Linked DNA regions of Homo sapiens: regions 2 and 3 are each linked to region 1. The links come from fine-mapping of genetic effects on gene expression. A gene starts in region 1. Each other region holds a variant in brackets. All regions are shown on one strand. Distances are between the middles of the regions. Region 1 holds the start of SELP (selectin P). Region 2 overlaps LOC107985745 (a long non-coding RNA gene). Region 3 overlaps SELP (selectin P).

Evidence for each region. PIP is the estimated chance that this variant, and not a neighbour inherited with it, causes the effect.
Region 2: its variant is fine-mapped to the expression of SELP in neutrophils (BLUEPRINT, PIP 0.95).
Region 3: its variant is fine-mapped to the expression of SELP in blood mononuclear cells (TOPMed, PIP 0.94).

What each region holds. Positions count from the first base shown.
Region 1 is chr1:169,624,949-169,635,637 of GRCh38, reverse strand. SELP (selectin P) reads left to right here and starts at 5,514. Exons shown (of 17, transcript NM_003005.4): 1 at 5,514-5,566. The coding sequence starts at 5,564.
Region 2 is chr1:169,663,514-169,674,202 of GRCh38, reverse strand. All of the region lies in intron 1 of LOC107985745 (a long non-coding RNA gene), which reads right to left. Among named protein-coding and RNA genes, the nearest start is that of SELP, 39 kb to the right of the region's middle. RefSeq lists an enhancer at 5,971-6,476. The variant G/A (reference allele first, on the strand shown) is at 6,363.
Region 3 is chr1:169,602,790-169,613,478 of GRCh38, reverse strand. It overlaps SELP (selectin P), which reads left to right. Exons shown (of 17, transcript NM_003005.4): 5 at 365-550; 6 at 1,077-1,262; 7 at 1,802-1,987; 8 at 3,790-3,975; 9 at 6,345-6,530; 10 at 10,268-10,453. Among named protein-coding and RNA genes, the nearest start is that of F5, 22 kb to the right of the region's middle. RefSeq lists an enhancer at 8,501-8,610. The variant T/C (reference allele first, on the strand shown) is at 5,384.

The DNA.
Region 1 (10,689 bases):
CATATAATAGTTATAACAGGCTATTTTAAGCTGATAAAATTTAACTTCAAGGATAAAAAAACTCCACACTTTTACTCTCCCTCCACATTTTATAGGTTTTTAATATTTTTCAGACTTTATGCTTTTGATGTTATAATTTACATCTTTTATATTGTGTATCTGTTAACTTATTGTGGTTATAATTATTTTTAATAGTTTTGTCTTTTAACCTTCATTCTAAAGATATAAGTGATTTATACAGCACAATTATAATATTGGAAAATTCTGAATTTGACTGTATTTTTATTTTTACCTGTGACTTTTATACTTTCGTAGATTTTCATGTAATTAATTAACATCCCTTTCTTTCAGCTTGAAGAATTCCCTTTAACATTTCTTGTAAGGCAGGTCTCGTGTTGATGAACTACCTCAGCTTTTATTTGTTTGGGAAAGTCTTTATCTCTTCTTTATTTCTGAAGGATGGGACTCTTGGTTGGCAGTTTTTTCTCTTTCAACACTTTGAATATATCATCTCACTCTCTCTGGGCCTAGAAGCATTCTGCTGAGAAATCTTGTGATAGCCTTATTGCAATTCTTGTCTGTGATATGCTTCTTTTCTCTTGCTGATTTTAGGATCCTGTCTTTGTCTTTGATTTTTGATAGTTTGATTATTATGTCTTGGTGTAGTCTTTTTTGGATTGAACCTGACTGGAGATTTTTAAGCTTCCTGTACCTGAATATTAATATTTTATTTCAGATTTGGGAAATTTTCAGCTAGCAATCTTTAAATATGCTTTCTGACCCCCTTTTCCTCTATTTTCTCCTTCTTAAACTACTGTAATGTGAACATTAGCTCTCTTTTTTAATTTTTAATTTAATTTTTGTTTTTATTTTTTGAGATGCAGTCTCACTCTGTCACCCAGGCTGGAGTGCAGTGGCATGATCTCAGCTCACTGCAACCTTTGCCTTCTAGGTTGAAGAGATTCTGCTGCCTCAGTCTCCCCAGTAGCTGGGATTACAGGCATGTGCCACAATCCCTGGCTAATTTTTTTGTATTTTTAGTAGAGACTGGGTTTCACCATGTTGGTCAGGCTGGTCTTGACTCCTGACCTCAGGTGATCCACTCACCTTGGCCTCCCAAAGCGCTGGGATTATGGCATGAGCCACTGAGTCTGGCTGAATGTTAGCTCTCTTGATGCTGTCCCATAAATCTTGTAGGCTTTCATCATTTCTTTTCATTCTTTTTTCTCCTCTCACTGTATATTTTCAAAAACCTGTCTTCAGTTCACAGATTCTTTCTTCTGCTTGATCAAGTCTGCTACTGGTGATTTCTACTGCATTTCTCACTTCATTCATTATATTTTTCAGCTCCAATTTCTTTTATGATTTCAATCTTTCTGTTACATTTCTTATGTTGTGCATTTATTGTTTCTCTGATTTCACCAAATTGTTTCTCTGTGTTTGCTTCAAAGTAACTGAGCTTCTTTAAAAACAATTATCTTGAATCCATTGTCAGGCCATTTGTAGTACTCCATTTCTTTTGGGTCAGCTACTGGGAAATTATTGTGTTTCTTAGGTGGTGATATTTTAATTTGGGTTTTCATGTTTCTTGCTGCCTTACACTGCTGTCTGAGCATCTGGTGGATCTGCCCCAATTTCAGGCTGTATGGGCTGACTTTGGTGGAGAAATACCTTCTTATGTGGAATAATGCGAGGATGCTGGCTGGGTGGGATGCAAAAGTTCTGACTTCAGTAGGGGCAAAGCTGTGTGGTCTCCATGCAGATCTGTCAGCTGAGGTTGGTGTTAGTGAATACTACAGGGATCCTTAGAGGCCAACACTGTGGGTATCTACAGTGGCAATGAGGCTGTTGAGGTTTTCAATTGTGACAAGTCCTCCATATCTCTTTTTTTCCCCACCTGGGAAGTCATGACTGAGGACATCCCTCTTGGAATTAGGTCTAACTTGCAGGCCTGCTCCTGGTGGTGGTGACACTGGTGTCTGATGAACAGTGCCCATGGAGTGGCCAAGAGCCAAGGCCTGAAGCATGGGCATGCATGGAGGGACCACAGCACCAGATTCAATTGTAGCAATGGTACCAGTGCCCAAGGCACAGGCATACTTACTATCACATTGATAATGGTGTGTAAAATGCAGGTACTTATAAAGCAGCTAAGGAGCCAGGGACTTTACTGCATGCATACGCAGAGCTACAGTGGCTCCAGGATCCAGGGTGTGGGCTAGCTCTCCTTGGTGGCTGAGCTGGTGACTAGAGCATGGACAGGCACAGAGAAACCTTGACTCTAGGACCCAGGGTGTTCACTAGCTCACTATAGTGGTGGCTCTGGTGTTGGAGGTGTGGGTGTGTGTAGTACAGCCTCAGAGACAGGGTCTGGAGCGCAGGTGTGCACATTACTACAGCAGCTCTGGAGTTGAGAATATGGGTTACCTTTCTACAGTGGCTGAACTAGTGTCTGGAGCAAAGACTTTCACAGAGAGAACTTGGCTTGGGGTCCCAGGGTGAGATCTAGTTCACAACAGCAGTGACTCCAGTGTCTGAGACATGAGGAGGTGCACTGCAGCCACAGAGCCACAGTCCAGAGTGTGAATATCTGTAGAGCAGCCACAACTTTTGGGGATCAGGAACACACATAGACTTGTGAGAGGTGGTAACCCTGGCCCCAGTCCTGGGGCAGTGCAACAATAGCTGCTTCTTGGTGAGGGGGTGTGAGGGGTAGTGCAACTGTGTTTCCCTTTTTAGCATCCTGCTATGGGAATGGCTGTTGGATAAAAGATGCCAGTGTCCTCTGTGGAGCAGGACACTGGGGGCCTCAGTGGCTCTGTGTCACATGACTGACACAGATAGCCTACAAATTTCTTTATTCGTAGCTATCTCCTGGTGTCTCATATATGCCAGTCTCACCGGTGATTCTTCTACATGGATATTCTTTCTTTTCTCCATTGTGTTGTTCCAAATTCTTTAACAGGCTCTTGAGCCCCATCCCCCAACTCCCCACCCTTGTGAGGGCTATTTTGGTTTGTGTATAACTGTCTATGTTTGTTTTTTTGTTGGGGCATAAGGCTGACATCTCCTACTCCACCATCTTGCTAATGTCACCTGCATAGGAATCTTTTTATGCTTTCCTTATATTCACTAAAATTTAACAATATCAAACTTAAAAACATATGATCAATTGAACTTATTAATATCAAACTTATTATAAATAAGAAACTACCAGGCTGGGCATGGTGGCTCATGCCTGTAATCCCAACATTTTGGGAGGCTGAGGTGAAAGGATCACTTGAGCCCAGGAATTCAAGACCAGCCTGGGAAATATAGAGAGACCCTATCTCTAGAGATTTTTTTTTTTAATTAGCCAGTAGTGATGGCACACATCTATAGTCCCAGCTACTCAGGAGGCTGAGGTGGGAGAATTGCTTGAGCCCAGGAGGTCAAGGCTGGAGCAAGCAGTAATCATGCCACTGCACTCCAGCCTGGGCCGCAGAGTGAGACCCTGTCTCAAAAAAAGAACCTACTAGTCTACATACCACACTTCCTCATCCCCATCTGAGACTATATATATTTTTTCTAACATGAGGCAATGCCAAAAAGAGGGGCTGGTGAGTGAAAGTAAGAACAGAAAGACATGGAGGCAAGTCTTATAGAATAATAGCCAACACTTAAACTTACACTTAACAGCGTGATAGGTATTGTTCCAAACACATTAAATTCATTTAATGGTCCTTACATGTCTATGTATTTGGTGATTATTATCCTTATTATTCACATTGCTGAGTGTATTATTCTGTTCTCATGATGCTGATAGAGACATACCCGAGACTGGATAACTTATTAAAAAAAAAAAGGTTTAATGGACTCACAGTTCCACGTGGATGGGGAGTCCTCACAATCATGGTAGAAAGCAAAAGACACGTCTTACATGGCAGCAGGGAAGAGAGAGAAATGAGAACCAAACAAAAGGGGTTTCCCCTTATAAAACCATCAGCTCTCATGCGACTTATTCACTACCATGAGAACAGTATGGGGGAAACCACCCCCATGATTCAATGATCTACCAGGTGCCTCCCACAACCTGTGGGAATTATGGGAGCTACAATTCCAGATGAGATTTGGGTGGGGACACAGCCAAACCACATCACTGAGGAAACTGAGTTATAGGGAGATTAGTAACGCCCAACACAGCTGGTAGGTGGTGGAGCCAGGCAGTCTGACTCTAGGGTCTGGACTCTGAACTGCATCATGCTGCCAAGAAGTTCCTCATTTTTTCCTCTCTCTAAGTTTCCCTTATTCCCCTACAGTCATTCCTTCAACAGCATTTCCTTCACCATCTTTTCTACTTCTACTATATAATTAATTTTTTCTTCTTGGTCCCAAATTCCAACGTGCAAATGCAGCCTTATATACCCTAATTCATCTTTACCTTTAGACTTTCTTCCAATGTTTCTACTTCATTCCATTTTAAATTTATCCATGAGATGCCTATTTACAAGCTGTAACCATCATGAAGTGAATGAAGAATAATACCTACTACTGTACAATAGAATTCCAAGAGTATAAATAGGAGTTATGGCTTTCTGACTTGAAACTAAATACTTGATACTTGATTTTGCTGTCTGAGATCAATCTGAAAAGTAATAATAATCACTAACATTTGTTGAGCATCAATTGTGGGCCAAGTGTCATTTCAATCACTCTGTACATATTAACTCATTTCATCCTACAACAACCCGGTGAGGCAAGTTCTGTTATTCTGTTTTACAGTTGAGGAAACAGAGGCATAGAGAGCTTAAGTAGTTTGCCCAGTAGATAGCCAGAAGAGGAGCCAGGATGGGTCTCGGGCAGTTTAACAGCACAGCTGAAGTCTTAACCACTATGCCAACAGCTTTTTGGTCCTACACATCCCATGGGAAGAGGAAAATAAAAAGGTATCTATTTGTATACCTTTTTATTTCTGATATAAGAAGCAGAATTCCTTTCACATGACCTATGTCTATTTAATACGTCATTTTGAAACTTACCAATAAAATTTCCCAAGCGCCAGAAAACTGTTAGTGGCTTTTTCCATTTCTCTCTATTTTTTTTTGTGCTACTAATTTTGCTTCTTTCCCTCAGAAGGCTGCCGGAATAGTAAACATTCACTGACATGTCATAATTACTGGAAAATGGGCACTGGAAAATCACATTGTAATTAATTCAAAGCATGTTTTCCAAATGTACTACTTTAAATTGGAGCTTATATCATAATCCAAGGAAACCTTTGTGTGTGTACTGTTCCCACATTGCTCAGCCTGGGATATCCAGGAGTAATTCACCTTGCGCCTGCCTCCAGACCATCTTCCATGGAAGGGGGTGACCCCTTGCCTCTTGGCAACCACTATTTCTAAGCTGCCAACATTACTCTTGCATTATCAACATTCTAACTTCATGGGAAGGGCTGTGGTGAGTTTCTGGAATGTGAATAGGAAGTTGTTTTTCTAAACAGCCTGACACTGAGGGGAGGCAGTGAGACTGTAAGCAGTCTGGGTTGGGCAGAAGGCAGAAAACCAGCAGAGTCACAGAGGAGATGGTGAGTTTATTTTTTTCTGCATGGGAAGTGGTTGAAGTGAGTTGGAGTGGTATGGAGTAAAGTCAGGCAGGTAAAGGTTCAGAAAGTGAGGAACAGCGATAGCCATGGAGTTTTATGTTGAATTGCCTATTAGATTTTGTGAGTACTTTTAAACTTGCTGTCCACTTTGACCCTCCCAACACCCTTGTGAGTTGAGGTTGCTATTTCTATTTTACAAATAAAGCCATCGTGGTTTACAGAGGCTGTGTTTTATCTAAGCTTCACTGTTAGGCTACATGATGTTGGGATCTGGGGCCTGTCCTCTGGCTCCGCAGCTGCTGTTCCTCCTACTAGAATTTATAGGGGCTCTCTGAGAATAGATCATGGTAAACCTGTCACCCCATTTTCCAAGACTGTACTTCTCTCTGGGATAAATGATGGAATAAATGGAAGACTGGGTAGGTGCCCTGGGACAAGCTTACAATTGAATAGTTTCTCATCCCCATCCCTCCCATTTCTTTCTGTGAGCCTATGAATCTTCTGGGACTGATCTGGAATATCCACATAGTTTCCTTTTCTGCCCTAAGACTCAATCTTGTTAATGACTCAGTTTCTTCTTCTATAAAATGGATATAGTAATAATACTCTATAGTTTCATCATGAGGATTAAATAAGATTTTGCTGAAAAGCATCCAGATCTGAGCCTGACACATAGTAAGTGATTAGTAAATGTTAGCCATTATTGTTACAATAAAAAGAAAATTCTTAGGAATAGTGGGGTTTAGGATTCAGGGAAGATCCAAGGATAGCTAGGCATTTTGAACTCAGCAATGTTATATGCTCATGGATAAGATGCACGTGGTTAGGCTACTTCTAATTCAGGGAAGATCCAAGGATAGCTAGGCATTTTGAACTCAGCAATGTTATATGCACCTAGATAAAATGCACATGGTTAAGCTACTTCCAATTTTCCTCAGACTTTCCAAGAGTATCCCACATAGTCCCAGGGTCCGAAATCCTGCAGTCTGTGGCTATGGAGGAACCAGGCAGGTCTCTGTTTTTGAGCACCTTTCTGTGGGACTCCAGAAAAAAGTACCGCATACACCTGATTCATCCTACTGCTTTGCTTTACTATAGCACACTTTTCAAGTACTTATAATGTGGGTTTCTGTGTTGGGGAAAACAGGAATAAGAGTATGATAAAGAGAAGAGGAAGGAGTTTGAGCCTGTCTTAAGTTTGAACCACAATGACCTAAGGATATGAATTACTTTTGTCCTGTCTTTTTGCATGTCATACTTCTGAATTGGTTAACTTAAATGAGCAGTTATTCCTCTCTTCCTTCTACTCTCCTTGGCATCCTCCTCTATTTCAAAGGTATGAACTTATTGGATCAGAGAGTTCTTTGAGATTTTGATGAAAGTTACAACTTGTCTTTCCCAGATGAAAGCAAAAACATCGACATAAACACCAACCTTTAGAGACAACCACAGGAGGTTCCCAGACCTCCATGTGGATCCCAGGGTAAGAACCCTTCTCGATTGCCTCCTGGGCTTTATGTTCAGAAGCCCCTCTCTTGGTACCCTGAAATTAGGCTTGAGCTCTACAGCGAAGTGCTAAGGCCCCAGCCCTGGAATGGTTTTTAATATTTCAAAGACAAGACCTCTTCCTTTTCCTCTGAGCACATTTGGCCCCAAAGATTCAGAAACCTCAAACTGCCTGTGTAAATTTTGCTTCAAGTTCAGAGAGTGGCTTTAATTAACTTTTAGGACCTGAGAAAATGAGGATAAGGTTTTTCTGGTGGGGTATTTTCAATCAGATAGATCTCAGAGGAGTAGCTCTTGATTGGGAACTTATAGTTAAATTGCACTGATGTTTGTCAAAGTTTTAGCGGGCTATGGCCGGGCTCAGTGGCTCATGCCTGTAATCCCAGCACTTTGGGAGGCCGAGGCGCATAGATCACTTGAAGTCGAGAGTTCAAGAGCAGCCTGGCCAACATGGTGAAACACCATATTTACTAAACTTACAAAAACTGGCTGGGCATGTTGGCATGTGCCTGTAATCCCAGCTACTCAGGAGGCTGAGGCAGGACAAACTCTTGAACCCAGGAGGTGGAGGTGGCAGTGAGTTGAGATCACACCACTGAACTCCAGCCTGGGTGACAGAGCAAGACTTGTCTCAAAAACAAAACAAAAAAAAAGTTTTAGTGGGCTAAGGAGCAGGTCTGGATTTTCGTCCATTTATACCTTTTAACCACCTTATGTGGCTTCCAGTCCTTACTCTTCTTTTCATTACCTGTTTTTCAAAATGCAACTAAAATAGTTCAGACTCTCCTGGGCTAGCCACCAGCTCTTAGAATGTGCATCTTCAGAGATCTTTAAGTAGAAGCTTATTGATCAAATCCTCAAAAATCAAAATGACTTACTACATAAAAAACTGTGTTTAGAAAAAACCCTGGACCTAAACCTAGAGAGTAGGCACACAGTGGTTTTATAAATGACATTCATTATATTGTCTTCAAGGTGTCTAATCTTTTTGATTAAAAAGTAAATCAGAAACTTCATGAAGTCAAATACAGAGCAAATCCTCACTATTTGTAGAGATATAACTCATCTCTGATCCAATAGACTTTTTAAAAAATTTTAAGTGTCGTACTTTATTTTTAATGCTAATATTTTACTCAAAATAATGGCAATTGGTAGTCTAAATTAAATATATGCTTGGATTCTAAGTGTTGATGTCCTGGGTCCCTTCTTGTCTATATTCATAATTTGCTCTTTGGCTTAGAGACAACCTCTTTTCTCACTGTATTTCTTTTTCCACCCCTAAGCTGGGCTACCAATATCTGTGCCACACCACTAACACCACCACCGTCCAGAAACATAAGGGAACTAATGTATTAGCTGTAATAGCTTGTAACATCTGGGCTTTGCTACCAACAAGTTGTATAGTTCTGCATCCTCAACAACTCTCATATTCACCTCCCCTATTTGCATTCCCACTGATGCCAGACCAAACCTGTCCCTCTTTAACTCTCACTGGGACCATTGCAATAGCCTCTTCTTTTGCAGTGCAATCTCCCTGATTGTAACTCATTTAAAAAAAAAAAAGTATCGCACTACTCTCACCCCTATAATATCAGCATTTTTGGAGGCCAAAGAAAAAGTATTGCTTGAGCCCAGGGGCTCCAGGCCAGCCTGGGCAATATAGTGAGAACTTATCTCTACAAAAAATTAGCCGGGTGTGGTGATGCATGCCTGTAGTCCCAGTTACTCAGGAGGCTGAGATGGGAAGATCACTTGAGGCCAGGAGGTGGAGGTTTCAGTGAACCCAGATCATGCCACTGCACTTCAGCCTGGGCAACAGAGCAAGACCCTGTCCCCCAGCCCCACAAAAAAAATCATACCACCATTAAGTGCATGTGTTCATGATACTTCTCTGTTCAGAAGTATCCCTTCTGCCAACTGGTATTTGTGACCCACAAGATATGGTCTCAAACTACCTTTTCAGTTAACCTCTAGGATCTCCCAATCTTCAGCAGGCTGGAGTGCAGTAGTGCCATCTCAGCTCACTGCAACCTCTGTCTCCTGGGTTCAAGCGATTCTCCTGTCTCAGCCTTCTGAGTAGCTGGGATTACAGGCATGCGCCACCATGCCCAGCTAATTTTTGTATTTTTTAGTGGAGTTGGTTTCGCCATGTTGGCAAGGCTGGTCTTGAACTTCTGACCTCAAGGGATCTGCCTGCCTTGGCCTCATAAAGTGTTGGGATTACAGATGTGAGCCACCGTGCCCAGCTTCCGTTGGCTTATCATTGCACTTAGAATAAAATCTCATCCCCTTGTTTTGGATCCCAAAGCCCGATGTGATCTGTCACTACCCCCGGCTCGTATTTTTCTCTCCATTGCTCATTCCATTCTGGCCACACTAATGTCTTCATGTTCTTTGAACACACTGCAGTTTGCTTCCACCTTAAGGCCTTTGAAATAGCTTTTTCTTCTTCCTTTAATGCTCTTCTTCCTGCTTCTCACTGGCTGGTTTCTTGCAGTCATTCTTCTCTCCACTTAAACATTATCTCATTAAAGAGGTCTTCCCTGACGTTCCTGACCAACATAGTGACACAGTCATTCTATCACATAAGTTTCATTTCCTACCTAGCACTTATGGCTATATTCTGTTAATATTTTTCATGTTTACTTGTTTAGTACTGTTGTGTAGTTATTAGTATTTGTTTCATTGTCTTCTCTACCAATAGAATGTGCATTCTATGAGGACTGGAATTATGTCTGTTTTCACCATTTTATTTGTTCACTTAGCTATTATCACTACTGTAAAAGTAATGCATTCAGTTATAATTATTATGTATTTTTCCAACATTTTCTTATTTAGCATATTTTTGTCTTACTTTCAGTTATTCCTCTGCCATTATTCATTCATATATTTATCCATAAAATGTTTATTGAGTATTGAGTATGTGCCCTACCATGGCTGGGGATTCAGACCTGAGTAAGTAATAGTCCTTGCCCTTGAGAAGCCTCTGTCAGTAGCTTCCTCAGCTGTATGCTCACATGTTTGTTGCGCATTTAAATTGTGGACCTCCTGCTCAAGAGAATATTCAGAAACGGAGATGCTGATTAGAGGACATTGGAAACAGATGACCATAAGGAGGTCATCTTTACTTCCCAGGAAAGCAGAAGAATGAGAAGAGAATAGGGCCATGGAGGTGGGAACCTAGAGAAACACTTACCTCTGCAAGGGAAGGCAGAGGATTGAGGTAGATTCAGAAGAAGACTCAGAAAAGTTTCTCAAACATTAGAGCAGAAGAACAACAGAAGAGCTAAGGGAAGCATTTTAGGCAAAAGGAAGTAGTGGTATTTACTGCTACAGAAAGGTCAAGGAAGATAAGGGTGGAAAGTCTTCATTTGGTTTGGTAATGAGGATGTCAGCAATGAAGTTTGCAGGGACACTTTGATAGGATGGTCGGGCAGTGGGCTGGAGAGTAAGGGGGAGGCAAGGAAGTTAAGAAAGTTTAGCTATAAGAGGAAGGAGAGAAACAGGCAGATGTGGGCAGGAGGACAAAGGGTCAAGGGAGGGACATTGTTTGATTCCGCCTTTCTAAAAGCACAAAGCTGTGGTCTACAATGTAGACA
Region 2 (10,689 bases), 39 kb before region 1:
TCTTGAATATTTAAATAAATATTTGCTTCACTTAAACCAAACAAGACAAACACCAGAAAGGACCTGTTCTTCATGGCAGGCCATGCTATAATGTGGAAAAAACAAAGCCTACAAAACCATTCAGAACTGAGTTTAAATCCTGATGCTTCCAGTTTCTAGTCAAATGGCATGCCCCATGCATTTAATCTCTCCAAGGCTCAATTTCCACATATGTACATACAATGGACGGTTGTTATGAGATTAAAGATCATTGTGAGATTAAACATCATGTGTGTAAGGTACTTGGCTCTTTGCTTAATAAATGTTAATTACTCTAATGAGGTAAATATTTTATTTTAATATGAATGCTCAGATTTATACCACAAAGTAGCTTAACCCCACCCCCCCACCATTAACTTTTAGGTTCAGGGGTACATGCACAGGTTTTCTATATAGGTAAATTGTGTGTCACAGGGGTTTGGTGTGCAAATTATTTCATCACCCAGGTAATAAGCACAGTGTCCTATGGGTACTTTTTGATCCTCACCCTCCTCCCACCCTCTATTCTCAAGTAGGTCCCATGTCTATTGTTCCCTTCTTTGTGTCCATGTGTACTCAATATTTAGCTGTCACTTATAAATGAGAACATGTGGTATTTGGCTTTCTGTTCCTGCATTAATTTGCTTAGGATAATGGCCTCCAACTACATCCATGTTGCTGCAAAGGACATGATGATCTTGTTCATTTTTATGGCTGCATACTATTCTGTGATGTATATGTACCACATTTTTTTTTTTTTAGCTAGTCTACCACTGATGGGCATTTAGACGATTCCATGTCTTTGCTATCGTAAATAGTGCTGTAATGAACATATGCATGCATGCGCCTTTACGGTAAAACAATTTCTATTCCTTTTGGTGTATATCCAATAATGGGATTGCTGGATTGAAAGGCAGTTCGGTTTTACATTCTTTGAGGAATCACCACACTCTCTTCCACAATGGCTGAACTAGTTTACATTCCCACTAGCAGTGCATAAACATTCCCTTTTCTCCACAACCTTCACCAGCATCTGTTATTGTCTGACTTTTTAATAGTAGTCATTCCTACTGGTATTAGATGGTATCTTATTATGCTTTTGATTTGTATTCCTCTAATGATTAGTGATGTTAAACATCTTTTCATATGGTTGTTGGATGTGTGAATGTCTTATTTTGAAAAGCATCTGTTCATGTCCTTTGCCCACTTTTTAATGAGGTCATTTTTTTGCTTGTAAATTTGTTTAAATTCCTTATAGATTCTGGATATTAGACCTTTGTCAGATGCATAGTTTGCAAAAAATTTTTCCATTCTGTAGGTTGTTTACTCTGTTGATAGTTTATTTTGTTGTACAGATAAACTATCTGTTGTACAACTAAAGAGTTTCATTAGTTTCATTAGTCAATTTGGTTTTTGTTGCTATTGCTTTTGGTGTCTTGTCATGAAGTCTTTGCCAGGTCCTATGTCCAGAATGGTATTTCCCAGGCTATCTTCCAGGGTTTTTATAGTGTTTGGTTTTAGATTTAAGTCTTTACTCCATCTTGAGTTATTTTTTGTATATGATGTAAGGAAGGGGCCCAGGTTCAATCTTCTGTATATAGCTAGACAGTTATCCCAGCACCATTATGGAATAGGGAGTCCTTTCTCCATTGCTTGTTTTTGTGGATTTTGTCAAAGATCAGATGGTTGTCAGTGTTCAGCATTATTTCTGGCCTCTGTATTCTGTTCCATTGTTTAACCCCTCTTTTGAGTGAAATGTATTATGCGCAGCAGTCAGAGGTTATTAAGGTGACTTCCATTTGTACATCTTTGCAGAGCCTTCCCTGGCTTTGGTCTGCACTTCTCAGGGCTGGCTCTGCAGATGAGGAATGAAGAAACAGTAACAGACAGAAAAGTCTCTAGGGGCTCAAGGAGCAGATCTTGTGGGAAAAAAGAAAGAAGCCTGTAACTTCCATTCTATAGCACCAATTTACTTATTTTCAGACTATTGCCCCCTGGCAAGTTTTAAATACTTTCTACTGTATCTTTAATCCCACCTATTGGTCCCACTTATTGGTGCCTGGTAGGAAATAGGCACCAAATTTCTCCTACAAGAAAAATGTGGTTCTTTTCTGTTTACCAAGTGCTGGTAGATACAATGTATCAGGTGTTAGAAGCACATGCTGTCTTCTTGTAAGATACATGAAAAAGACACAATGCTGAGACTTCTTAAGAACTGGAATCAAGAAATAAACGGGCTTTGGAAAATGGAGAGACTCTTACCCAGTAAACCTTCATTCTGGATTTTATACTCTAACTTTCCCTGTGAATTTTCCTACTTGTAAATGACTGATGGCTTAAGGTAAAACAAGATTAAGCCAGAGGCTTGCTGGGGCTAACTGAGCTACTCTACAGTGACATGAGAAATTATTAACTGAACTTCTTTGAAGTATAATATACACATGGAAAAAGCTAGATATAAAAAAATGCATTTTTACAACCAACACATCCTGTAGCCAGCATCCAGATCATTACCACTCCCCAGAGGATTCCTTATTTACCGCTTCTGGGCATTAAACTGTCCCCTCCCCACAAAGGTAGCCTCTCTTCTGATTTCTAACACCACCATGAATTGGTCCCACCTATTTTTGAACTTTGTATATAGAGAGAATCTTTCAGTATATGTTCTTTGGTCTGATTTCTTTAACTCAGCATTTTATGAGATTCATCCATATAATTGTATGAAGACTGTTCACCATCATTGCTGTGTCTGTGTGTCATATAATTGTATGAAGACTGTTCACCATCATTGCTGTGTCTGTGTGTGATATAATTGTATGAAGACTGTTCACCATCATTGCTGTGTCTGTGTGTGCATTTATATACTTATTTATATATCAAATGCATAATAGGTAAAAATTTTGATCAGATATGCTTTTTCAACACATAGAAGTTAAAAACAGCTATGCACTGATGTGAAGCTTTTCTTTTTCCAACTTTCTAACTTCCCAAAAAGTCTCCTAAATGAGTTAGGCAAGGAAACTTTTCGCTATAGAAAAGAAGATGTTGGATTCCTGTTAATTCTAGTTTGTTTAGATTTTTCCACAGTGGGAGGTGTTAACAGGGGAAGAAGTACAATGCTGCCTGGGAAAGCCTGCCACTGTTTATCATCCAAGTATGTCAGGTCAATCTAACTGATTTCCTGTGCTTGAAGACAGGAAAAGACGTTGCTGCCTGGCTGCTCCTGCCCTCGGTTTCAAACCAAAGCTGGGGTCAGGCCCAATTGTGAAGTGGTTTAAATTGGTCTCTAGTGCCACCCCATTCTCCTTTCTATACCATCAGATACCCTCCCCCTATTGCTCACTAAGGAGCTTGTGATTATAGCCTTCCTCTTCATCAGTAGATAACATACCACCTAAAAGTGATGTTTTTTAAAAAAATTACACTTTAAGTTCTGTGATACATGTGCAGAACGTGTAGGTTTGTTAAATAGGTATACACATGCCATGGTGGTTTGCTGCACCCATCAACCTATCATCTACATTAGGTGTTTCTCCTAATGCTATCCCTCCCCTAGCTCTCCACCCCGCAACAGGCCCTGGTGTATGATGTTCCCCTCCCTGTGTCCATGTGTTCTCATTATTCAACTCCCACTTATGAGTGAGAACATGCGGTGTTTAGTTTTCCGTTCCTGTGTTAGTTTGCTGAGAATGATGGTTTCCAGCTTCATCCAAGTCCCTGAAAAGGACATGAACTCATCATTTTTTATGGCTGCATAGTATTCCATGGTGTATATGTGCCACATTTTCTTTATCCAGTCTATCATTGATGGGTATTTGGGTTGGTTCCAAGTCTTTGCTGCTGTGAACAGTGCTGCAATAAACATATGTGTGCATGTGTCTATAGTAGAATGATTTATAATCCTTTGGGTACATACCTAGTAATGGGATTGCTGGGTCAAATGGTATTTCTGGTTCTAGATCCTTGAGGAATCGCCACACTGTCTTCCACAGTGGTTGAACTAATTTACACTCCCACCAACAGTGTAAAAGCATTCCTATTTCTCCACATCCTCTCCAGCATCTGTTGTTTCCTGACTGTTTAATGATCACCATTCTAACTGGCATGAGATGGTATCTCATTGTGGTTTTGATTTGCATTTCTCTAATGACCAGTGATGATGAGCTTCTTTTCATACATTTGTTGTCCACATAAATGTCTTCTTTTGAGAATTGTCTGTTCATATCCTTTGTCCACTTTTTGATGGGGTTGATTTTTTCTTGTAAATTTTTTGAAGTTCCTTGTAGATTCTGGATATTAGCCCTATGTCAGATGGATAGATTGCAAAACTTTCTCCCACTCTGTAGGTTTCCTGTTCACTCTGATGATAGTTTCTTTTGTTCTGCAGAAGCTCTTTAGTTTAATTATATCAAATTTGTCAATTTTGGCTTTTGTTGCCACTGAGTTTGGTGTTTTAGTCATGAAGTCTTTGCCCATGCCTATGTCCTGAATGGTATTGCCTAGGTTTTCTTCTAGGGCTTTTATAGTTTTAGGTCTCACATTTAAGTCTTTAATCCATCTTGAGTTAATTTTTGTATAAGGTGTAAGGAAGGGATCCAGTTTCAGTTTTCTGCATATGGCTAGCCAGTTTTCCCAACACCATTTATTAAACAGGGAATCCTTTCTGCATTTCTTGTTTTTGTCAGGTTTGTCAAAGATCAGATGGTTGTAGATGTGTGGTATTATTTCTGAGGGCTCTGTTCTGTTCCATTGGTCTATATATCTGTCTTGGTACTGTGTCCGGAATTGGTGGGTTCTTGGTCTCACTGACTTCAAGAATGAAGCCGCGGACCCTCGCGGTGAGTGTTACAGTTCTTAAAGGTGGTGTGTCCGGAGTTCGTTCCTTCTGATGTTCGGATGTGTTCAGCCTTCTGGTGGGTTCGTGGTCTCGCTGGCTCAGGAGTGAAGCTGCAAACCTTCTCGGTGAGTGTTACAGCTCTTAAGGTGGCCCATCTGGAGTTGTTTGTTCCTCCCAGTGGGTTCGTAGTCTTGCTGGCTTCAAGAGTGAAGCTGCAGACCTTCGCAGTGAGTGTTACAGCTCATAAAGGCAGTGTGGACCCAAAGAGTGAGCAGCAGCAAGATTTATTGCAAACAGTGAAAGAACAAAGCTTCCACAGCGTGGAAGGGGACCCAAGCGGGTTGCCACTGCTGGCTCATGCAGCCTGCTTTTATTCTCTTATCTGGCCCCACCCACATCCTGCTGATTGGTAGAGCCAAGTTGTCTGTTTTGACAGGGCGCTGATTGGTGCATTTACAATCCCTGAGGTAGACACAAAAGTTCTCCACGTCCCCACCAGATTAGCTAGATACAGAGTGTCGACACAAAGGTTCTCCAAGTCACCACCAGAGTAGCGAGATACAGAGTGTCGATTGGTGCATTCACAAACCCTGAGCTAGACACAGGGTGCTGATTGGTGTGTTTACAAACCTTGAGCTAGATATAGAGTGCCGACTGGTGTATTTACAATCCCTTAGCTAGACATAATGGTTCTCCAAGGCCCCACCAAAGCAGCTAGATACAGAGTGTCGACTGGTGCACTCACAAACCCTGAGCTAGACACAGGGTGCTGATTGGTGTGTTTACAAACCTTGAGCTAGATACAGAGTGCCGATTGGTGTATTTACAATCCCTTAGCTAGACATAAAGGTTCTCCACATCCCCACCAGACTCAGGAGCCCAGCTGGCTTCACCCAGTGGATCCCACGCCGGGGCTGCTGGTGGAGCTGGCTGCCGGTCCCGTGCCGTGAGCCCGCACTCCTCAGCCCTTGGGTGGTTGATGGGACTGTGTGCCGTGGAGCAGGGGGCAGCGCTCGTCGGGGAGGCTCGGGCTGCACAGGAGCCCAGGGAGTTGGGGGAGGCTCAGGCATGGTGGGCTGCAGGTCCCAAGCCCTGCCCCGTGGGAAGGCAGCTAAGGCCTGGCGAGAAATTGAGCACAGCAGCTGCTGGCCCAGGTGCTAAGCCCCTCACTGCCCAGGGCCGGTGGGGCCGGCCGGCCGCTCCGAGTGTGGGGTCCACCAAGCCCATGCCACCTGGAACTCGCGCTGGCCCACAAGCACCGCATGCAGCCCCGGTTCCTGCCCGCACCTCTCCCTCCACTGCTCCCCTAGAAAGAGGAGAAGCCATGTTGCCCAACTCCAGAGGCTTGTATAAGAGTTTGAAAGATGTCTGATTTCAGAAGCCTTTTCCTGTAAACACCGGGCGGCATTTCGTACTATCCCTGACTGGTTAGTGTAAAAACAACACTCTTGCCCTAAGAAGGTGCAGAGTCATCCTTTTTCAGCAGTGAGGAGGTCTAGGCCTTGGC[G/A]GTTTTGGAGAGTCACTGCTACCAAAGAGTCTATTTGGGACTGTAAAGTAAGGATAGATTTCATTATTTCTTGCAAACTGTCTGAGAGGCAGATATGGGTTGAAGATCCACATAAGTAGAATATGCCTTGGCTGGGTAGATAGACATTTACCCTGGGTTTTAAAGGAATAGGGTACACTGTTTTTTTTTCTTTACTACTTCCATCTCTCTTTCTCTTTCTCTTTGACTTCTCCTTTGTCTCTCTTTCTCTTTCTCTTTGACTTCTTCCTCTCTGTCTCCTTCTCTGTCTCTTTGACTTCCTGTCTCTTTCTTTCTCTCTGTTTCTTCCTCTCTCTCTTTCTCTGACTTTCTCTTTCTCTCTTTCCTTCTTGCTGATCTTTCCCTGCCTCTGCCAGCCGCTTATGCTGCTGCTCTCCCCTCTTCTTCCCATTTTGATGGCTTTGGCAGTGTAAGAGTGCCACCCCCTTGTGTTTTTGCATTGTGTGCAATAACTCTATAATTTCCTTGTGGTATTTGATGGGGGTTCCCCCAGAGGTTAGGAACTCCCTCTCTTTCCATATTGCAGCATGGGCATATAGGATTAGATAAGCATACTTGCTATCTGTATACACGTTTATTCTTTTTCCCTTTCCCAGTTCTAAGGCTTGGGTAAGTGCCACTAGTTCTGCTAACTGGGCACTGGTCCCTGGGGGAGGAGGCTTACTCTCAAGTATGGTTACATCACTAACTATGGTGTAACCTGCCCTTCGTATCCCATTCTCCACAAATGAACTTCCATTGGTATATAGGTAAAGGTCAGGATTAGTTAAGGGGACTTCTAAGAGCTCATCTCAGGCGGTGTGAGTCTGGACTATAATTTGTTGGCAGTCATGCTCGATTGTTTCCCCGTCCTCTGGGAGAAAAGTGGCAGGGTTGAGGGCCACACACGTGTGTATTTGAAACACTGGTCCCTCAAGGAGGAGTGCCTGGTATCTAAGTAGGTGGTTGTCTGATAGCCATAAACTTCCTTTGGCACCTCGTATGCCATTTACATCATGAGTAGTCCAGACAGTGAGACCCTTTCCTTGTATTATTTTGATAGCCTCTGACACTAAGACGGCCACTGCTGCAACTATGCTTAAACAGTGAGGCTAGCCTTTTGCTACTACATCAATTTCCTTACTTAGCTATGCCACTGGTTGTGGGGTTGTCCCACGAGTCTGAGTAAGGACTCCAAGAGCTATCCCGGCTCTCTCTGTGACGTATAAAGAGAAGTTTTGTCCTGTGGGAAGGCTTAAAGCTGGAGCTTGTACTAGGGCCTGTTTTAAGGTTTTGAAGGCTCTTTCTGCCTCTGGTTCCTATTCGACTAGATGAGTATTTGCCCTCTGGGTTTCCTTGATTAGAGTATAGAGGGGCCTGGCTATCTCACTATCTGGGGATCCATAGTCGGCAAAAGCTAGCAATTCCAAGGAACCCCCTCAACTGTTTTAATGTCTTAGGGTGACGATAAGCCAGTATAGGCTGTATTCGTTCCTTGCTGAGGGCCCTGGTCCCTTTGGCTAAGATTAGGCCTAGATATTTAACCTGCGGTAGGCAAAGCTGGGCCTTCGACCTAGACACCTCGTACCCTTGATTAGCTAGAAAGTTCAAGAGATCTAGAGTAGCCTGCTGGCACGAGGCTTCCGAACTGGTAGCCAAAAGTAAATCATCCACATATTGAAGGATCAGAGTGCCTGGACTTGAGAAGTGGCCTAGATCTTGGGCCAGTGCCTGACCAAACAGATGAGGGCTATCCCTAAACCCTTGGGGCAAGACCGTCCACGTAAGTTGGGACATGTGGTCTGTGGGATCCTCAAAAGCAAAGAGGAACTGGGAATCACAGTGCAGGGGAATACAGAAGAAGGCATCCTTGAGGTCCAGAACCATGAACCATTCTGCCTTCTCTGGTATTTCAGAGAGCAGGGTATAGGGGTTGGGTACAACTGGATATAGTGGAATTACTGCCTCATTGATGAGTCTAAGATCTTGCACTAGTCTCCACTGACCATTCGGTTTTTGTACTCCTAGAATTGGGGTGTTGCAGGGACTGCTGCATTTCCTTACTAAGCCTTGAGCTTTCAAATGTTTAACAATATTCTGTCATCCTTTATGAGCTTCAGGCCTTAAGGGATATTGCCTTTGATAAGGAAAAGTGGTGGGATCTTTTAACCTGATTTGGACTGGGCGGGCATTTTTTGCCCTTCCAAATTGTCCTTCCAATGCCCAGACTTCAGGGTTGATTCCCTCCTCAAGTAGGGGACAACAAATGGGTAACTTGTTCCCCATATTCATGTAGATAATAGCTCCAGCCTTGGCTAATATATCCCTCCCTAATAAGGGTGCGGGACTTTCAGGCATAACAAGAAAGCCATGTGAAAAGAGCAAAGTCTCCCAATTACAACTGAGAAGGTGGGAGAAGTACCTGGTTACAGGCTATCCCAGGATTCCTCGGATGGTAACGGACCTTGAGGACAGTCATCCAGGACATGAGATTAACACTGAGAAGGCCATGCCAGTGCCCAGGAGGAAGTCAATTTCATGGCCCTCAATGGTGAAACATACCTGGGGCTCAGTGAGGGTGATGACATGAGCTGGCGCTTGCCCCGGGCACCCTCAGTCCTGTTGTTGGATCATCTGGTTGGGGGCTTCTGACCCAGGGAACCTTCATCCTCTGGCACAGTGCACCTTCCAGTGATTGCCTCAGCATAGTGGACATGGACAAGGGGGCAGCTTGTTTCTCATTGGACAATCTTTTTAAGTGTCCTAGTAAATCACACTGATAGCAAGCCCTACCGGGTGATTGGCCTGCTCCATTTTCTATCCTCTCTGAACCACCAAGGTTTGTTTATCTGAGGGCCATGACTAAGGCTGCAGCCTTTCTCTGATCTCGCTTTTCCTTTTGGGCCTCTTTCTCTTGGTCCCTATTATAGAATACTGAGGTTGCCAGGTTTAATAATGCCTCTAGATTTTGTTCAGGGCCCAGGGCTTGCTTTTGGAGCTTTCTCCTGATATCTGCAGCTGATTGGGTAATAAACTTATCTTTTAGAATCAATTGACCCTTGAGTGATTCGGGTGACAGGGGAGTATATTTTCTTAAGGCCTCTCGTAGCCGCTCAAGGAAGGAAGAGGGATTTTTCTTTCTTTCCCTGAGTTATGGTGGACATCATTGAATAATTCATCAGTTTTTTTCTAATTCTCCTTAGTCCTTCTAGAACATAGGTCAACAAATGTTTATGACTCCAGTCCCCATGATCGGAGTCAAGGTCCCAGTGGGGATCCATACTGGGGATGGCTTGCTGACCAGTAGGGAATTTGTCCCTTTCTTTGGTTGTCATTCTATCATTTACTTGACTAAGATACCAGGTATCTCCAAACTCTCGGGCTGCAGCTAAAGCTGCATTCTTTTCATTAAAGGACAGGGTTTGATCTAACAGTAGCATGACATCTCTCCAAGCAAGGTCTAAGGTTTGCCCTAGACCCTGTAGGACATCTACGTACCTATCAGGATCATCTGAAAACTTCCCCAGGTCTACCTTGATCTGCTTTAAATCAGAGAGGGAGAAGGGGACATGTACCCAGGTTGGGCCAAATTCCCCTCCCCCTACAGCTTGAAGGGGACATAACCGATAGCCCAGGGGTTTTTGTGGTCCCTTGGAGATTTCTTTGCTTGTTTCCTTCCGGCAGGGGAGATTAGAGGAGGATTATTATTAATAGGAAGGGGAGCTATAGGGAGGCTGGGATATGGGGGTAAGCTGAGAGGTCCTCCTGTGGGACATAAATTGCAAGCTTTGCATAGTTGTGTATTCTCCCTCAATGAAAAGAAAGCTTGGACATAAGGTATTTCATTCCATTTGCTTTCCCTCTCACAGAAAAGGTCAAGCTGCAGGATAGTATTGTAATTTGTACTTCCCTCAGGTGGCCATTTTTCCCCATCAGAAAGAGAATATTGGGGTCAAGCCGTAGTGCAGAAAAAAAATGAGCCACCTCTTTTTCAGGGTTTGTGGGTCAAATTGGTCCCAGTGGCTTAGGATGCATTTCAAGGGTGAGCCTGTTGATGCCTGAGTGTTTCCCATCTGAAAGACAAAACCGCCCATGGTTTTGGTTTATTTTGTTTTTCCCCCTGCCCAAGAACCTGCAACAGTCCCTGGACCCTGCTGATCAGAATAGTTGTGCTCACCGACGCAGCAGCAGAAACAACCCCTGCCCAAGAACCCGCAACAGTCCCTGGACCCTGCTGATCGGAATAGTTGTGCTCACCGACGCAGCAGCAGAAACACTAGTTTTCCTCCCAGACCACATGGAGAACTGA
Region 3 (10,689 bases), 22 kb after region 1:
CCCCCCTCTATCATCTGTCTCCTCCACTCAGTGTCCCTAGACACACACTCTAGGTAAAAACATTTTATTCTTGGGAGAAAACATTGACTCATAAATTTCAAAAAAGAAAAGGGAAAGGGAAAGGAAGCAAAACCAACAGAACTTTCAGGCTAATTTTACTTGTTTGAAGTAAAAACTTGTGAAAGAATGACTATTTCCCAAGATGCAGCCAATACAAAGAGACCAAGTAGAGATGGATAGCTTGGGTTAAAAGTTTAGAAAATTAGAGTTAAGAGGGTTACACAAATAGTTACAGCTTTCAGCAAACATGACATTGCTGTTAATTCTACATGGAAAATAAAAATCACTATTTTGTCTCCTGCAGTGAGAGAGTGTGGAGAACTTGAGCTCCCTCAACACGTGCTCATGAACTGCAGCCACCCTCTGGGAAACTTCTCTTTTAACTCGCAGTGCAGCTTCCACTGCACTGACGGGTACCAAGTAAATGGGCCCAGCAAGCTGGAATGCTTGGCTTCTGGAATCTGGACAAATAAGCCTCCACAGTGTTTAGGTATGTAGACCTTATTCTTTTCATCCTCACTGACATAGAATTTTGGGGGAGAAGAGGACACAATGAGCTTTCTCCATTAAAAAATGTGAGAAATAATGACCATCTAGGTTAGATGGAAAACTCTGGTTATCACTGTTAACTGTCAACCAGAGTAACATTAATTTCAATTTTCATGGTATTTTTTTATGGGTAGAGTGACTTAGTCAGTTTAATTGTTGATTCGCAGGCAAAAACATTACAAAGGGACCCCTCTTTCCCTTTGTTAATTGTAAAGTAAACAGAGTACAATGATGAGGACTTAGGGGTTAAGAATTATTAATTTGATAATTTTACCTAACTTCTCTACATGAAAAACAAGGGTGTTTGATCTTTCCAAGCAGCTATTGAAAACACCATTTAACCATTCTAGTGCATCAACCTGCCTGCCACTTTGGGAAGGTGTGACTGCTGCAGAATTTGAAGGCTTCCAAGGTGATGGACAAAATTTGTCCAAGGACTCACACTATTATTCTGTGGTTGGTTTTAGCTGCCCAGTGCCCACCCCTGAAGATTCCTGAACGAGGAAACATGACCTGCCTTCATTCTGCAAAAGCATTCCAGCATCAGTCTAGCTGCAGCTTCAGTTGTGAAGAGGGATTTGCATTAGTTGGACCGGAAGTGGTGCAATGCACAGCCTCGGGGGTATGGACAGCCCCAGCCCCAGTGTGTAAAGGTGAGTTTCAGGTAGTTGGGATGTATAATGTCCATTGCACCCAGTCCTTACTTAGTGCATAGATGAAATTGACCAGCTTATGGAGAAGCTGGCCTGAATTGCCAAAATTTAATTCTCTTCCTACCTGCCATTCAGCTAGATTGGGTTCATCTGAGATGAGAAAGGAAAAAAATTCCTTTCTTTCCCCAAACACAAATGCAGGCAGTTTCAGAATGGCCTCATTCATAATTTCCCCATAAGATTAGAAAGGGTGGCCTCTACATCTATAAGTGGACACTAGAAGACCTACTGAGACAGGTTTATAGAAGTATAGGGAATAGAGGACATTAAGAATACAGCTTGGAGGAATCTTTGTTTTTAACAGACTCAGATCACCCTGGGAACTGGTAATCCAAGTCTGGACAAACATCATTAGGGTCTCTTGACCTTTACATCTTGCTAGCTCCACCTGCATTTCAGAGGTGGTTCCACCATTGCTCTCTGTGTGGCTTTTCTCCTTTCTCAGTATCTTTCTCTTTATCCTTGGTTATTCTCTCCAGCTGTGCAGTGTCAGCACCTGGAAGCCCCCAGTGAAGGAACCATGGACTGTGTTCATCCGCTCACTGCTTTTGCCTATGGCTCCAGCTGTAAATTTGAGTGCCAGCCCGGCTACAGAGTGAGGGGCTTGGACATGCTCCGCTGCATTGACTCTGGACACTGGTCTGCACCCTTGCCAACCTGTGAGGGTAGGATTTTTCATTAGCAACCTCCATTCTGTCCAAGAAGGAATCATGGCATGGTAGAGAGGCCAAGGGCTCTCAGTGTCGGGGTGATCTCTTCTAAGTTCTTGCACTAGAGCAAGCTCTTCAACCTCCAGGAACCATGGTTTTCTCATCTGTGAAATGGAGCTAAGAATTGCAAGGTGCTTGTGAGGATTAAGTACATAAAAAGTATACAATTAAATAGCATGTATAAAGTACCTAGCATAGAGCTTCTGCTCTACTGACATATCCGAGGTATAGGACCATGTCCTATACTTGAGAGGGAGTTGGGAGCAGCGGCTAAGGTGGCTAAAGAGAGTGGTTCACCATGTAGTCTTTGAGGGTAGCCTTTGACAAAGAAGCAAAGGAAGGAACACTGCATCGAAAAAGTGTGTGATGCAATCCCAGGCAATTACATAATTCCGCCAAAATGAATTCTCTGCAATTGCCTCACACCCTCAGTTTATAAGGCGGACAGTGGTAATGGGAGAATAGGAAATTTACGATAGATTAGTGAATTCCCAGACCTGGATGACAAGCCCAACCCTGCTACTATCTAGCTATGAGACTTTAGAGAAGTCACTTAACACTTCTGAACCTCACTTTTCTTGCCTAAAACATAAGAGAGAAGAGAGAAACACTAGAGGATTTTGGTGTTTTTGTTTGTTTGTTTGTTTGTTTGTTTGTTTGTTTGTTTTGAGACAGAGTCTCACTCTGTCGCCCAGGCTGAAGTGCAGTGGCACGATCTCAGCTCACTGCAACCTCTGCCTCCCAGGTTCAAACGATTCTCCTGCCTCAGCCTCCCGAATAGCTAGGATTACAGGCAACTTTTTGTATTTTTAATAGAGACTAGGGTTTCACCACTTTGGCCAGGCTGGTCTCAAACTCCCGACCTCAAGTGATTCACTCACATCAGCCTCTCAAAGTGCTGGGATTATAGGTGTGAGCCATTGTGCTCAGCCGGATTTTTGGTTCTTAAATGCTCTGAGTCTGTAAAAACCAGAGGTCAAAGCCCAGAGCAAAGAGGTAGTCTTTACACTTTGAAAAGTTTCAGAAATAGCCTGGAAATGAAATGCTTTATCAAGGAAGAGCATGAGGAAACCAATCTTTATCAGAACTGAGGTCACTCAGGGCTTAATTGTGCTCAGGAATTCACTTTGGCTGCACTCACTTGGCAACTGAAGTCTGATTAGGATGACATCCTGTGTTCTAGAGACAAAGCCCGGTCAGGATCATTTTACAGGACTAGGTAACAGTGTCAACAATAAGCTATGCTAGTCCAGCTTTTTTTTTTTTCCCTATAAGTCCAGCATTTTCCTGTATATACTCTTTTCAGGTTCAATTTCACAGATAATGTCAATATTTAATGAGCACTTTCAATGTACAAAACACTCTGCTCAGCTCCAGAATAAAACTATGAATGACTGAGCCCAACTTCGAGGAGACCACGGTATAATGGGGAAGAATGACAATCATGTATGAACAGCGCAAGAACAGAGGCTGTGGGAGCACATTGCAGGGGCTTCTACCCTTAGTTAAGGTGGGAAGGGAGGGCTTCCTAAGGAAAGGGAAGTCTAAGCTGAGACCTGAAGGGCAGGTGAGAGTGAGTCAGGCCAAGAGGGGCATGGGAAGGTGTTCCAGGCAGTCTCTCTTTTGGAAAATGGAGGTTTTAGGGTTCTGAACACACTGAAAATGTGGACAGGAAAGATATAGCATCTAGGAATTTTTTCTGAGGAAGAACCCGGCCCTTCCATTACCTGGCTTTAGAAGATACCTTTTCCACTTAGCTATTTCGTGTGAGCCGCTGGAGAGTCCTGTCCACGGAAGCATGGATTGCTCTCCATCCTTGAGAGCGTTTCAGTATGACACCAACTGTAGCTTCCGCTGTGCTGAAGGTTTCATGCTGAGAGGAGCCGATATAGTTCGGTGTGATAACTTGGGACAGTGGACAGCACCAGCCCCAGTCTGTCAAGGTACTGTAACAGTGGTAATGTTTTTCTGTGTGTCTCAGCTCGTTAGAGGCATCAGCATCTGCACTGAGCATTGGCATGCCTTTCTTTATCAGATATTCACTGAGAACCTACTATGGGCCATGTCCTTTGTGCTTGGGACCAGGGATGAGATGAAACGGTGCGTGAAGCCAGTCTTAGGCACATGTCCACTATAGTATAGTCAAGGTGAGGTTTGCACTGATTGACACATATAGGGTGCATTGGAATGAAGAAGATGGGGCTTGGGGGAATAAATCATGCATGAGGAATAGCATGGGATGGGGAAGGGTAATGGACAAGGTGTTTAGCTCAGTCCTGTCACTTCCTGTCCTTAAGCTAGTGGTTTAGACTCTCTGAGGCTCAGTATCTTCTGTAAAATGGGGCTACTATTATCAGCCTTACCTACCTGCCTCACTAGTAGTTGTGAATTAATGTGTGTAAACGCAACTTTAAAACTCTTATAGGATTTATAGGGAAAATGATGATGATGACATGTTACCTTATAAATCACATGTCTGTGGTCTGATTTGACAAAATGATCCTCTTTCAATATGTTAGGTTTCTAATCTTTTGCTCTTATACTAAGGCACTCATGGGGGGCGGGTGTGGTGGTTCACAAGGATTATTATTTTTTTTACGAGGAGTACCTCACACTAAAGTCATGTTCCAGAAGTGTAATATTGACATTTTGTGTTTTCATTTACGGAGACCTCTGAGCAATCTATGTGACTCCTCTGGGTTCCTAAGTATACCTTGATTTTAAAATGAGGCAGTGGTTTGAAAGCAGGTCTTGAAGAGATATTTGTGCACCCATGTTCATAGCACTATTAATCACAACAGTTAAAATGTGGAAGCAACCCAAACACCCATCAATGGATGAAAGGATAAGTAAAAAGTATTCCACATACTTACAGTGGAATATTATTCAACCTTAAAGAGGAAGTAAATTCTGACCTCTGCTACAAACATGAATGAACCTTGAAGACATTATGCTAAGTGAAATAAGCCACTATGAAAGGACAAATACTGTATGATTCCACTCATATGAGGAACTTAGAGTAGTCAAAGTCATAGAGACAGAAAGTAGAACGGAGGTTGCCAAGGGCTCGGCGGAAGAGGGAAATAGGGAGTTATGGTTTAATGGATACGGAGTTTCAGTTTGAGATGATGAAAAGAGTTTTGGAGATGAATAATGGTGATGGTGGCACAATAATATGAATGTGCTTAATACCACTGAACTGTACACTTGATATTGGTGACATGGTAAATGGTAAATTAAATTTCATGCTACGTATATCTCACTATAATAAAAAATTGAACAGCAAAAAAAAAAAAAAAGAAAAAACAAGAAGGCAATAGAATAGATGGCTATACACCATGATGCTGACAC[T/C]TAGTCTGAGTTATGGAATGTATTGTATATGTTATCTGGGAGAAAAAGACACAATGAGCTCTTTGACACACTTAAAACGGATCATAAGGGATTATTCAAGCCATTGTTGTCTCCAGGAAGGTAAATGTCTAATCAAGAAAAGATAGTTGGATATTCTCTTAAGTATCCAGAGATGTGGTCTCACTAACCCCCTTCATAGGCCTTCTGAATGTTTCCCACTCCTGAACTCAGTGTCTGCATGTGACGCAAAGCCTTAATGATATTATTACTATCTATTACTACCACTGCTACTAATATAGCAGCTAATGTTCATTGAGCACTTTCTATGATCTCAGTCTAACTCTATGAGGTAGTTACAATTATTACTACCATTTTAAAGATGAGAAGAGACAACACATGGAATATGTGTGCTCTCTTCGTATATGGTTATTTATTTTACATCTTTGAGATCATGGTGTATATTATAATTTTTACTCTGATTTTTTATTTAACATCATACATTGAGACCTCTCTCCTATCTTTACAAGTTAAAATATATTATTTTTAGTGACCTTTAACATTCTTTTCATGGATCCACCATCATTAATTTCCACCCTCAATTAATGGCATTTGTGTTTGTTTTCAATATTCCGCTCTTACAAATAATGTCTTCACAAAAATCTCTAAATAGATTTTTTGGTATGCATCTTGATTACATACTTAGCATAAATTCTTGGGTCCAAAAGCATGATAACTTAAAAATTATTGACACATGTTGCCAAGATGCTCAACAAAGGTTTAGCATTTCCTAATAAAATCCTTCATGTGCCGTTATAATTAAATGACACTTTTTCTTATCTTCTATGTTAAACAAGCCCAATTCAGGAATCCCTGTTCTTGACACTAGAAAGAGTTAATGGTCAAAAATCAATGAGTACATGTGTATTACTGTTTCTTTATTCCTTACTTCCTCATCCCTTAGCTTTGCAGTGCCAGGATCTCCCAGTTCCAAATGAGGCCCGGGTGAACTGCTCCCACCCCTTCGGTGCCTTTAGGTACCAGTCAGTCTGCAGCTTCACCTGCAATGAAGGCTTGCTCCTGGTGGGAGCAAGTGTGCTACAGTGCTTGGCTACTGGAAACTGGAATTCTGTTCCTCCAGAATGCCAAGGTAAGAGTGTATTCTTTCTAACATCATGGAAATAAATTGTAGGCAGTATTTTTAAAGGCTGGATTTTAGAGGTGACAACTATGTAAGATCCACCTTGAAATGGACTGGAAAATTCATAAATACTCTCACTCATCCTCTTGTCCTATAACCCAAGGATCCCAAATGCAAATGCCTCCGGGGGATAGGCAGATTACACAAGTGTCAGGATGTCTGGCCATAGACAGTAGGGCATGGCCCTTGCTAACTCCTTATCAGGGTCTTTACCCAGACCTGAAGGCTCCTGCCACAAACCAGGTAAACTCTTCTCACCTGGCCAAACATGGCATCTGGAAAGAAGACCAGGTGGGAAAAAAATTGCTTCAGAGTGGTTGTCCCAAGGCTGGTCTGGCACTTCTAGGAACCACAGGGTATAATGGTAAAATGGGAGGGGCAGAATTTACAAGTACCCAGTTGCAAACACTCCAAGATCTGTATAAAATTGGAGAAATAGACTTAGAATAAGGTGAAGAGTGATAGAAAAAAGAGAAAAACTAATCTGTATACTGGAGGTTACGGGATTCTCAGAAGAAAGAAATGTGTGGATTCAGTATAAACATTCTATCTGCATTGTACTTGATATACATACATTTTTTGAGACGGAGTCTCACTCTGTCGCCCAGGCTGGAGTGTAATGGCACAATCTCGGCCCACTGCAACCTCCGCCTCCCGGGTTCAAGCAATTCTCCTGTCTCAGCTTCCCGAGTAGCTGGGACTACAGGTGCCCACCACTGCACCCAGCTAATTTTTGTATTTTTGGTAGAGATGAGGTTTCACCATCTTAGCTAGGCTGGTCTCAAACTCCTGACCTCAGGTGATCTGCCTGACTCGGCCTCCCACAGTGCTGGTATTACAGGTGTGAGCCACTGCTCCCGGCCTTGTACTTGATATTTAACAAGCCAGTGTGCTCTGTCAGTATTGCAACATCTTGTATGAACTTGAACGGGTTCTAGTCATCCATGTTTGTGAATTGAAGGATAGACGTATATTTTTTATATTCCCCAAGCTTTTTCCCCCTCAATGTATCCAATTCCTTAGTTAACTTTTATAGACAATGCTGCTTTTTAAACGCAAGATTTTCATTTATAAAAATCTGCAGAAATATAATAAAGAAATGAAGAAATATCCTCTTAAATACTCCTATCCTAAAATAGACACTGTTAGGCTTCTGGTATGAATTCTTCCAATATTTTCTCCGCTTTTCCTCCTATGCAATTAATATTTTTATGATGTATATACAATTTTAACAATAAAGTTGAATGGGTAAAAGACTAGACAGTTCTACATTATTTGCCATACCTTTCACTTTGTATAGACTTTCAACATTTGAGTGAAAGTGGGCAGATACATATTTTTTACTAAAAGGAAACCACTCACTATTCAGGTCACACAAAAGCATAATCACATACACACACACACACCCCCCACACACACACCCCATTGTTAAGCTAGGTCAACAGTAAATGAATGAATGAATGAATGAATGAATGAATGAACAAATGGACAAGCAAACAGCAGAATTGAATGTCCTTCATCGCCAGGCACCAGAGAGGATGGCAAGCCCCTGGACTTAGGGTTGGGTGCACCTTCAGAGCTGGGTCTGGAGAGAACAGGGCGGGGCTGTGACCTTGCCCCTTAAGTGCTCATCCTGGCTACGTTGAAGTCTGGACATATCACAAAGTCCACACAACTTTGGGGAAGTTGTGGGAAGAACTGGGAATCCCTGAGGACAGTGATCACAGTGATTGAAACTCTTACAGGCAAGCCTGGGTGGTGCAGGGCACAGATTACAGTTCATTGCTCCATACTGTCCTGCCTCTGGGTGTTTCACAGCAAGGAGGTTGCCACTCACCACGGCTTCCTGTGACCTTCCAGTTCCCTTCTGCTTTTAGTTCTTTATTTACTCTGAACTTTCTCCTCTTGTTGCTGGGTGCACATCAAGTGAAATACCCAAATGTGGGCTGGGCAGGAAGGTACCATGCAGTGTGCAATCCACTCGCTGTTGTAATACTTCTGAGAGAGTGTTATCAGACAATTTCCCTTTTTAATGTCCTCCCACCCCTCCACATCTACCCCTGCTGTCAGAAGGCAAAGCCACAGAAGAGCTGGAAATGGGTTCTGTGGTACCAACATCCTCACCCACACCCTTTCCCCCATAAGTCCTTGCAGTTTATAGGCTTCTTGAGTTGTGTCCTCTCCAGCCCCACATACACACTTACTACAGAAATACTTTTCAACTAGAAGAAAAGAACCAGATCTTTGGACAAGTTGATCAGATTGAAAGGAATGTAGCTAGAGAGGGGAAGGAATGAAGGGAAGAGAAAGGCGTAGAAAGTGTTCTTGAAACCTCATGCTGTTTAAGTCAGTGGCTGAAAAATGACCCTAGGAGCAAGGACTTCATGTCTAAAACACCAAAAGCAATGGCAATAAAAGCCAAAATTGACAAATGGGATCTAATTAAACTAAAGAGCTTCTGCACAGCAAAAGAAACTACCATCAGAGTGAACAGGCAACCTACAGAATGGGAGAACATTTTTGCAATCTACTCATCTGACAAAGGGCTAATATCCAGAATCTACAATGAACTCAAACAAATTTACAAGAAAAAAACAAACAACCCCATCAAAAAGTGGGCAAAGGATATGAACAGACACTTCTCAAAAGAAGACATTTATGCAGCCAAAAGACACATGAAAAAATGCTCATCATCACTGGCCATCAGAGAAATGCAAATCAAAACCACAATGAGATACCATCTCACACCAGTTAGAATGGCGATCATTAAAAAGTCAGGAAACAACAGGTGCTGGAGAGGATGTGGAGAAATAGGAACACTTTTACACTGTTGGTGGGACTGTAAACTAGTTCAACCATGGTGGAAGTCAGTGTGGCAATTCCTCAGGGATCTGGAACTAGAAATGCCATTTGACCTAGCCATCCCATGACTGGGTATATACCCAAAGGATTATAAATCATGTTGCTACCAAGACACATGCACAGGTATGTTTATTGCGGCACTATTCAAAATAGCAAAGACTTGGAACCAACCCAAATGTCCAACAATGATGGACTGGATTAAGAAAATGTGGCACATATGCAAGGATTTTCCTTTTTCCCATTTCGAAGATAAAGCAACTGAGGCTCAGAAAGGTTATTGTCTAGTGATAGATTGCTAGCAAGTAACAGAGCCAAAATTTGGGCGCAGATTCCACCACTTGGTTGGGAAAGGGGGAAGAAAGTATTTTCCTCCATTTCTGTGTTTCCAATCATTTGTCATTGTTTTCTGGTAAGGTCATTGGGGTGTTTCTGAAGAAGGTATCAAGGGAGAAACCAGTTCCACCCCTGTCTAGAAGCAACAAAAATGAGTTGCACCACTATCCTCCCAAACAGAGCACCAGCTTCCTTTAAAAATCACCTCTAAAGCTGTTTGTGATTGAGCACTTCAGGATGTCAATCAACTGTAAGCTGCTGCTATTTTACACCTCTACAATCTCTAACTGGTGATGAAGCATCATGAAATTCAAACAATCACTTTTAGCCAAATACCATCGTTGTATATTAATCACACACACACACACACACACACACACACACACACACACACAGAGAGAGAGAGGGAGAAAGAGAGAGAGAGTTACAGAGTTCAGGTTGCTGAATTATAAAATGATCTCTTCTTTTCTCCTCTGCCATGCCCATGATAGCCATTCCCTGCACACCTTTGCTAAGCCCTCAGAATGGAACAATGACCTGTGTTCAACCTCTTGGAAGTTCCAGTTATAAATCCACATGTCAATTCATCTGTGACGAGGGATATTCTTTGTCTGGACCAGAAAGATTGGATTGTACTCGATCGGGACGCTGGACAGACTCCCCACCAATGTGTGAAGGTAGGCTGTGGGTCTGTCCTTTCTTATGGCTTTAAAGATGACATCAGAGAATGGAGAATCATCAGGGATTTATATAAAAGTGTTCTTGAGCTGAAGCAAACAACACTCTCCACAACAATGGTAATCTAGATAAAAAAGTTCTCCCTCTCTTTAAATAATATTTTAATAGCTTTAGTTAAATATTCCACAGTTTCAAGAACATCCTGGCCAACATGGTGAAACCCCGTTTCTACTAA